Regions from separate parts of the Homo sapiens genome. Here regions 2 and 3 are each reported to be linked to region 1. Evidence: microRNA targets listed by miRTarBase, many of them from high-throughput screens and not tested one by one. Region 1 holds a microRNA gene; each other region holds the end of a gene's coding sequence.

Evidence for each region. Region 1 holds the annotated microRNA hsa-miR-4768-3p (CCAGGAGAUCCAGAGAGAAU, at 1,149-1,168, opposite strand). A microRNA usually pairs through its seed, bases 2 to 8, with sites in the 3' UTR of a target mRNA and lowers its output. Matches are read on the target gene's strand: a 7mer-m8 pairs with bases 2 to 8, a 7mer-A1 pairs with bases 2 to 7 and ends in A, and an 8mer does both.
Region 2: the mRNA of CARD6 is a reported target of hsa-miR-4768-3p. Seed matches in the 3' UTR shown: 7mer-m8 at 791-797.
Region 3: the mRNA of LIX1L is a reported target of hsa-miR-4768-3p. Seed matches in the 3' UTR shown: 7mer-A1 at 1,707-1,713, 7mer-m8 at 1,914-1,920, 8mer at 2,031-2,038, 7mer-m8 at 2,183-2,189 and 7mer-m8 at 2,412-2,418.

What each region holds. Positions count from the first base shown.
Region 1 is chrX:17,423,838-17,427,094 of GRCh38, reverse strand. It overlaps MIR4768 (microRNA 4768), which reads right to left and starts at 1,214; the gene lies at 1,141-1,214. All of the region lies in intron 1 of NHS (NHS actin remodeling regulator), which reads right to left.
Region 2 is chr5:40,853,907-40,857,163 of GRCh38, forward strand. CARD6 (caspase recruitment domain family member 6) reads left to right here. Exons shown (of 3, transcript NM_032587.4): 3 at 1-1,448. The coding sequence ends at 540. Among named protein-coding and RNA genes, the nearest start is that of CARD6, 14 kb to the left of the region's middle.
Region 3 is chr1:145,933,411-145,936,667 of GRCh38, reverse strand. LIX1L (limb and CNS expressed 1 like) reads left to right here. Exons shown (of 6, transcript NM_153713.3): 6 at 116-3,245. The coding sequence ends at 358. All of the region lies in intron 2 of LIX1L-AS1 (LIX1L antisense RNA 1), which reads right to left. Among named protein-coding and RNA genes, the nearest start is that of RBM8A, 7.6 kb to the right of the region's middle.

The DNA.
Region 1 (3,257 bases):
ATGTCAGAGAGATGGGAAATATATCAAGTTCTGTCAGCAGGTCAGCCAGGCCGAGCATGCCAAGTGATCTGGGGTTATAGACAGCAGATTAATCTCAAAGCTGGAACTTCTTTAAGACCAGGAAGTAGCCCCTTTTCTGATTAAAAGACAAGTCAATAATTCTGGGTCCTTGGTCCACCACTGTGATATGTCCCTTGCAAAACAGGCACTCTCAGGCAGTCTTCCCTGCAGAGCAACCATGATGGATACTGACTACTGACTTGAAAGTGCTTTGACACCCCCAGATGGAAGGAACTAATCAATTATGCTTCTCACTTAGAGGCACCCTGCTCATTCATGCTGAAGATAGAAGTCCAGATAAAAGTAGAATTACTGGGAGTCCAAGATCCAGAAAGAAAATGAGAGAGCTCAGCTGGTCACTGTGAATGATGTGCATGTGCCCCAAGCCTTTGAAACACATGACATTTTCCAGCAGCCAAGCACTCATCAAATTGCAGAATGTCGAAGCTACAAGGAAACTTAGCAATTATTTAATGATCTAAATTACTTTTATTATAGTGAAGAGGAAGCTGAGGCCTAGAGAGGTAAAATAACCTGTCATATAGCTGAGCAGCGAAAGGAACAGACTCATTACCCTAGTGATCTCCTGTCACACAACCCATCTCATGAAGCTCTCTCTCAGGTCGAGTTTAATAGATGAGAGAACAAGGGGTAGTCTGCCTATGCAAAGCAGGTACACACAATGAGATCAGAGCAAAGGGGATTTCCTCCCCTGAAGCTAAACAGCCCCCATAAGTGATGTTACGTGTTAGGATAATTTCCTTGGTGTGCTGGAAGATGTTTCACAAGCATGGGTGGTGGGGACCCTTATTTGCCATATTTGCCAATTTCTATAGTGTAAATACTCTCATCATGGCAGATTTCAAGCTACCAACTTGATGCCACTGAACAGCAGTTGGGGAGAGATATGTGCAATCAGCTCTTGTGAGCTGATAGAAGCTGGATCCTCCACACCACTGGAATTTCTGAGAAGTCTACATCACGGGTTTAGGAATGAAATAACTTTCTGGCCCACAAGAATAAAACACCCAGGTTTATGAGGAAAATCCTAGCAGCACACACTCTAGGTTTCACTCACTGAAACTCTGATTCTCTCTGGATCTCCTGGACATCACAGTTCCCATATCCATGGGATCCAGAGAGAATCAAAGTTTGGAGAAGTTACTTGGTCCATCATGTCTGTATCTCTGGGTAGTATCCTACCTAATTGATCCAAGGCAGGAGCACTGAGAGGTGGAATCCACATTCCCTATCTTAATGCTTTTGGCAACCAAGCATTCCTTTCCCAGCAGTAACAGGATCCAGTTTCCAAGGTGATATGTGAGCTCAGAGCCCCATCTTTACCAACGTCAAAGGCAGTGCTTGGATTCAGCTTCAGGTAGGCCTCCTCTGTTCATGTAAGCAGGAAGGAAAACATGTAAAACTGAATTCCTCCTCAATTTCTTTCTTTCTTTCTTTCTTTCTTTTTTTTTTTTTTTTTTTTTTTTTTTTTTTTTTTTTTTTTTTTTTTTTGGCTGAGAAGAGTTCCAAGGCTGGGGCAGCAACTCATCAGGAAAAGTTCTTAGCCTGTGCTTTCTTTTTGCCAAACATTGATTTGCTAATAGAGAAAATAACTGGTGTATAAACAAAAGTGGTTGATGACATCCAAGGGTCTGGAGCAATTCCTCCACATCGTTCTGACAGCTAACAAATGGAACTAGCTCTTAGGGAGCATGTTTAAGGAACAGCTGGAATATGTAACGGACATTTTTCTGTGAATTTGACAGGTCAAGCTCCATCACGGTTGAGCTACGCTCACCGGACGTGGATCAGAATGAACTCTGCCATTCCTCAGAAGGTTGCCAAGAGGGCTTTGAAGAGAAGGGAATCCAAGGAACTCAGTTTCAGACATGGAGAAGAATAAAGACCAGACAAATCATGAGCAAACCTGATTTAAAGAGAAAGATCTATAAATACCAGTTGCTCAGCTTTCTCCCTGGTTTCCTGACCCTATGATGAGCTCCACCAAAATTAAGTAAGTATAGCCCTTTCCAGAGGGTCACTTGGAGGGAAGATCCTGCCATATGTCGCCTATTGGTCTTTAGCCTCACCACCACCCCAACATCTGATAAAGTCAACAGACGTGAGTTCCTAAAGGATACAGAATATACAAGATACTTTCCCTTATACAAGGATTCACTCTAAGCATCGTTAAAATGGCAAACTCACCTGGGACCCCTAAGATAACCTGATTTACCAAAATCTGGTTTATCCTTAGCATATGAGGAGCACATCCATTCTCTAAAGCAAGGAGATTTTCAAGATCAATGAGCAGAGAAACTTCTCAAAAGAATTTTATAGAATTTTTTAAGATAACAAGCAAACTAACAAATGATTGAGTAAACCTGGTACTATTCCTTTTCTTCTTCCAAACTCAAGGGAGTTATTCCAAACAATAACATACCTAGAAAAGAACCTGTGAAGATTGCAAGATTATCTAAAGAAGCCACCGGGGCAAGAGCGGTGGACATGCTTCTCCACACGGCCCTGCACCCAGACCACTCATTGTGAACTCCACCCAAATGCATAAACCTTTGGGAAGCAAAGGATGAATTGATTAGCTGCAATCTGTAGGCCCAATCAATCCATCTCCACACTGTAGGGACCTGCACAGAATCTCTCCTTAAAGTCTAGTCTTTCATGAGGAGAAATTCACCTCATAAAAGACATGATCAGAAGACATGACAGCCTGGAGGAGCAAACTACTGCTAGGTCAGTGGAAGTTCTCCTCCTGTTTGTGAAAGTGAGGAGAAAAGCACAGAGCATTTGTCCCTCAGCTTGTCTCCCTTGCAGTCTTCTCACTTATTATAATTCAAAAATTACCTCCATTTCAAGGAATCCTTCTCCTTCAGAGCTTTCAGCTCAAGGTGGCCTGGTTTGATCTCTCCTGACACCACTTCCTCCCTCCACCCCAAAGTAGATTAGGATCACCTTGGATAACCACCAGAACTTGATGATTAAAACATTCAGAGCAAAAAGATCTTCAGAGGTCATGCCAACTGATAAGCCAAGTTAGTAGCAAGGCATAAAATAAGGCATTACTGTCTTTGTTCTGTGCTGATCCATGCATTGTCCTACCTACCATGCCAGCACTTTGGTCTGTGAAATATGCAGAAAAGGCAAGAGAAACACAACTGCTGACAAGAGGATGAGGAAAG
Region 2 (3,257 bases), not on the chromosome of region 1:
CCAGCAAGAGCAGTAGGGAAGCCATGGCCTCAGCAAGCTTGCACCAGGGTAACAGAGTTAACTGAAGCAACTGGAAAACTGATAAGAACATCCCATATTGGAAAGCCTCACCCTCAGTCCTTTCAACCAGCAGCAGCCACACAAAAACTAAGACCTGCTTCTCAGCAAGGAGTCCAGATGAAGACACAAGGTGGGGCTTCAAATCCAGCTCTCCAAATAGGGTCCCATCCCATGTGCAAGAGCTCTCAGTTCAAATCCGATCAGTCCAACCCATCCACAGTCAAACACTCCCAGCCTAAACCCTTCCATTCTGTGCCCTCTCAACCTAAATCCTCTCAGACAAAATCCTGTCAGTCCCAGCCCTCCCAAACTAAACCTTCTCCATGCAAATCTACTCAGCCTAAGCCAAGCCAGCCCTGGCCTCCCCAGTCTAAGCCTTCTCAGCCCAGACCCCCTCAACCTAAGTCATCCTCAACCAATCCTTCACAAGCTAAGGCACACCACTCAAAAGCAGGGCAGAAGAGGGGAGGGAAGCATTAAAGAGCTAACTCCAGAGATCTATAAAGCATATCCTTTACCCAGGCCATTCCTATCATATAGTAAGCAGAAGAGTTGCCATGAAAGTAAAAGACTACTGTCATTAGCATGTAAAACAAAGAAAGATATACATGACTGAATTGGATATCTTTGTTTGTTTGTTTGAGACAGAGTTTCACTCTTGTTGCCCAGGCTGGAGTGCAATGGCACGATCTCGGCTCACCGCAACCTCTGCTTCCTGGCTTAAAGTGATTCTCCTGCCTCAGCCTCTCGAGTAGCTGGGATTACAGGCATGCACCACCACACCCAGCTAATTTTGTATTTTTAGTAGAGGCAGGGTTTCTCCATGTTGGTCAGGCTGGTCTTGAACTCCCGACCTCAGGTGATCCGCCCACCTAGGCCTCTCAAAGTGTTGGGATTACGTGTGTAAGCCACAGTGCCCAGCCCGAATTGGATATCTTTAAGATATCTGTAAGTGTTATATCCCTAACCAAGAAGAAAAATATGAAAATAATTAAGACTAGAATCAAGCAGTAGATAATTGAATCCAATCTTGGGTATTATTAGATAATGTATAACTTGCACCCAGGGAATGGGGGTCTATGAGACAACCCCACTTGGAGAAGAATGGGGTTAGGGTCTCTAATTGCAAAGTGACTGTACAATAGGACGAAAGTTGCCTCTGTGTCTGAGAAAGTATCTTAGTTGTTGGCTGCTCCAGAGGTATCTTTGTCAAAAGCTTCTGGTTCAATATCAGCCACTGAGCAGATAACCCTGCTTATTTGGTGTGGTTAAATCAACTAGCTTCTGCTAATAGCCCCAATTTGCTTGAATGGGAAAACTCTCTCATTTGACCCTTATAGGTAGAAATAATGAATTAACAACCAATAAAATTAATCATTTGGCATTAACTTTGTGAAAGATCTATGTTTGTTTCATATTTGATATGGTTTGGCTCTGTCTCCACCCAAATCTTATCTCGAATTGTAATCCCCATGTCCCTCAGGAGGGACCAGGGACCTGGTGGGAGGTGATTGGATTATGGGGCCGGTTTCCTCCATGCTGTTCCTGTGATAGTGAGTGAGTTCTCACGAGATCTGATGATTTATTTTTATTTTTTTGAGATGGAATCTCGCTCTGTCACCGAGGCTGGAGTGCAGTGACATGAACTTGGCTCATTGCAACCTCTACCTCCCAGGTTCAAGCAATTTTCCTGCCTCATCCTCCCAAGTAGCTGGGATTACAGGTGTCTGCCACCACACTTAGCTAATTTTTGTATTTAGTAGAGATGCAGTTTCACCATGTTGGCCAGGCTGGTCTCAGACTCCTGATCGCAAGTAATCCACCTACCTTGGCCTCCCATACTGCTGGGATCACAGACATGAGCCACCAAGTCCAGCCGAGATCTGATGGTTTAAAAGTGTGCCACTTACCCCCTTGTTCTCTCTGTCTTCTGTCGCCACGTAAGACATACCTTGCTTCCTCTTCACCTTCCATCATGATTGTGTTTCCTGAGGCCTCCCCAGCCATGCAGATCTGTGAGTCAATAACTTCTTTCCTTTATAAATTACTCAGTCTCAGATAGTTCTTTTTTTTTTTTTTAGATGGAGTCTTGCTCCGTCACCCAGGCTGGAGTGCAGTGGCGCACGCCGATCTTGGCTCACTGCAACCTCTGCCTCCTGGCTTCAAGCGATTCTCCTGCCTCAGCCTCCCAAGTAGCTGGGACTACAGGCGCCTGCCACCACGCCTGGCTAATTTTTGTATTTTTAGTAGAGACAGGGTTTCATCATGTTTGCCAGGCTGGTCTCGAACTCCTGACCTTGTGATCTACCTGCCTCAGCCTCTCAAAGTTTTGGGATTACAGGCGTGAGCCACCGTGCACGGCCTCAGGTAGTTCTTTATAGCAGTGTGAAAACAGACTAATACAATAGTTTAAATATTTGTAATAGTTAAGAAAATTGGACTTATTAGAGGGTCTGGTATTAATATACTAATACCTCATGATTCAAATTTAAAATGTTATTGAGTTTTCTTTTTTTTTTTTATACTTTAAGTTTTAGGGTACATGTGCACATTGTGCAGGTTAGTTACATATGTATACATGTGCCATACTGGTGCGCTGCACCCACTAACTCGTCATCTAGCATTAGGTGTATCTCCCAATGCCATCCCTCCCCCCTCCCCCCACCCCACCACAGTCCCCAGAGTGTGATATTCCCATTCCTGTGTCCCTGTGATCTCATTGTTCAATTCCCACCTATGAGTGAGAATATGCGGTGTTTGGTTTTTTGTTCTTGCGATAGTTTACTGAGAATGATGATTTCCAATTTCATCCATGTCCCTACAAAGGACATGAACTCATCATTTTTTATGGCTGCATAGTATTCCATGGTGTATATGTGCCACATTTTCTTAATCCAGTCTATCATTGTTGGACATTTGGGTTGGTTCCAAGTCTTTGCTATTGTGAATAATGCCACAATAAACATACGTGTGCATGTGTCTTTATAGCAGCATGATTTATAGTCCTTTGGGTATATACCCAGTAATGGGATGGCTGGGTCAAATGGTATTTCTAGTTCTAGATCCTTGAGGAATCGCCACACTGACTTCCACAATAGTTGAACTAGTTTACAGTCCCACCAACAGTGTAAAAGTGTTCCTATTTCTCCACATCCTCTCCAGCACCTGTTGTTTCCTGACTTTTTAATGATTGCCAT
Region 3 (3,257 bases), not on the chromosome of region 1:
AGGTGCTGACCTCAGTTAGGTCTCTAAAGCTGAGTTCTTAGTCCCAGTTGGGTCAGTGTGGTATGATATGAACCTTTACCTTCTCAATGATGTTCACATTCCCCTCCCCTACTAGGAGGTGTTGGCTCATTATTCGCACCGGGCCCTGGATGATGATATTCGCCACCAAATGGCCTTGGACTGGGTGAGCCGGGAGCAGAGTGTGCCGGGGGCACTGTCTAGAGAGCTGGCCTCTACTGAGCGGGAGCTGGATGAAGCCCGACTGGCAGGCAAGGAGCTGCGCTTCCACAAGGAGAAGAAAGATATTCTTGTGCTGGCTGCTGGGCAGTTGGGCAATATGCATTCTTCCAACTGCTAGGCATCCACCCACATAACTCCCCAGGCTTTCCACAGCCTTTTTTTATGTCTCCTTTCTAAGATTTAGGATGATTTTTTGTACATACTTTCTCATTTTTATACTTTAAAAAATATATATGTGTATAAATTCTACACCTAGATTCCTATTTGCTAAGAGATCCCTTTTCTTACTACCAGTTTTTGGATGTAGTTTTATTTGAAACATCTTCAGTCCACTTTACAACAAAGAGCAGCTTGTCTTTGCAGCTTTGTTAGCTCTTAAACTTCCAGATTAACTGTGTAGCCATTTCAGTAGCACTAAAAGATTAACTCTAGTGTTCATGTGTCCTTCTTTTCAAATATCAGGTAACTTGAATAAGGATTATGTGCCCCACCCTTACTCTCATTCCTGCTTCCTCTTGGACTCAAACAGGGTATGAGTATGAAGATTTTGCCTTTAGTTCCTGAACTGAACCTGCTTGCTATCCCTTTCCTCCCCACCACTACCTTATTCCTTCTCTGCCTCCAAATTGCCACTTTGTTTTGAGGCTTCCTTCCCTACCTTATTATTCTGAAGGAAGTAGAGATCTTGCTTCTGAAACCCCTCCTAAGAAACTGCCCAGGGACAAGATAAATTACAAACAATTCATGGGAGTTTACTACCTAAGTTGCTTCTAGGGCATATGTATACCATACTAGTAGTCTAGATTTCTGGATATACTCTACAGTAGATGGGGGTTATGGTTGAAACTGATTCTCTTTCAGTATTCCCTCTAAACATCTCCCCTACTCCCCCAGCTTAGTTAAACCCTGCGTTTGGACCTTCCTGCCTGCAGCTATTAGTAGAAAGTAAAACATATTTCCATATTTCCCTTCACCTAACATTTTATTTTTTGGAAGCGTTATCAGTCCTATTTGGTTAGTGAGAACCATGTTCCCCTTATTCCCGCTAAGTTGCTGCTGTTTACTACCTTAGATTCTCATTTGTTTTCTCTTTCTTTCCTCTCCTTCCACATTAATTATTAGAACATAAGTTGATCAGGAAAATTAAATGAGACTTTAGTATTTTGGCACTTCCTAATTGACACCTTGGGAGACTGCAGGAAGGGAAAGAGAATCAATGATCAGTTATTTGTGTGTGTGTGTGGTTTTTTTTTTTTTTTGGAAGACAGAGTCTCACACTTTTGCCCAGGCTGGAGTGCAGTGGCGTGATCTCGGCTCACTGCAACCTCTGCCTCCAGGGTTCAAGCGATTCTCTTGCCTCAGCTTCCCGAGTAGCTGGGATTACAGGCACACGCCACAACGCCTGGCTAATTTTTATATTTTTAGTAGAGACAGGGTTTCACCATGTTGGCCAGGCTGTTCTTGAACTCCTGACATAAGGTAATCCACCCGCCTCAGCCTCCCAAAGTGCTGGGATTACAGGCGTGAGGCACTGAGCCTGGCCTATTTGTGGTTTTTTTTTGGTTTTGTTTTTGTTTTTGTTTTTGAGACGGAGTCTTGCTCTGTCGCCCAGGCTAGAGTGCAGTGGCGCGATCTCGGCTCACTGCAACCTCCGCCTCCCAGATTCACACCATTCTCCTGCCTCAGCCTCCCGAGTAGCTGGGATTACAGGTGCCCACCACCACGCCCAGCTAATTTTTTGTATTTTTAGTAGAGACGGGGTTTCACCATGTTAGCCAGGACGGTCTCCATCTCCTGACCTCGTGATCCACCTGCCTCGGCCTCCCAAACTATTTGTGTGTTTTTTTTTTTTTTGAGACGGAGTCTCGCTCTGTCGCCCAGGCTGGAGTGCAGTGGCGCTATCTCGGCTCACTGCAAGCTCCGCCTCCCGGGTTCACGCCACTCTCCTGCCTCAGCCTCCTTAGTAGCTGGGACTACAGGCGCCCGCCACCATGCCTGGCTAATTTTTTTGTATTTTTAGTAGAGACGGGGTTTCACCGTGTTTGACAGGATGGTCTCGATTTCCTGACTTCGTGATCCGCCCGCCTCGGCCTCCCAAAGTGCTGGGATTACAGGCGTGAGCCACCGCGCCCGGCACTATTTGTGTTTTTAACACCATTCTCCCCCACTTCTCTCCTGGGTGACATAAGAGAGAAATAACCTGTAGTACAGCAGCTAAAGTATTCTCCTTTCAGAGAATTTTTTTGGAGGTCTCTAATATATATTTCCCCCTTGTCTCTGTGATCTCTTATTTATACTATATTATTGTCCCATGTACTTTCTAAACTGAGCTTGGAACATTTAGTATTCCTGCAATTGGACTTCCCACTTAACAATTATACAGACTTTGCTTTTAGAAATAGATTAGGTTCCAAACAGAAAGTTCAAGTGTAACAACAACAATAAAAATAGATTATGAAACAGGCTATAATTGGCTCTTTTGGATTTGATAGGGGCAAGATGAAAGGCAACTTTCTTGCTTTTGAAATCATGTTGGGTAAGAGGTAAGGAATCCAGCTACAATTTTATTAGTGCTTGAAACGGGCTTCCTTGAATTCTCCAGGCCCTATCATTTTTTTTTTCTTACTAATCAGAAGAGAGCTGGGGTAGAAGCCCCATGTTTGTATTCCATGAAACACGTCGGGTTGGAGTAAAGGCAAAAACAGCTAGACACACCAGGTGTGTCTGTTTGACATTTATAAGCTGGCACTCATCAACACTCCTGTTTCTCCTTTCTCTGGGACGTGTGGATTAAGGGGTGTGAGTTGTGGGAAGAATTGCCCTCGTACCTCCTGGATTTATTATTTTTCTCAAATACCAACCAGTAAGATCCCAAATAACTTGAGAAAAATTGTTTCCTGATCTGTCCACTTCTGGTGTCAAAGATTTTACTCATCTTCTTAGTACATTCTATGTATTTTATATGTATAATTTTATACAATTAAAAATAGATTTTTGTCTAGTGAGCCAGACTGACT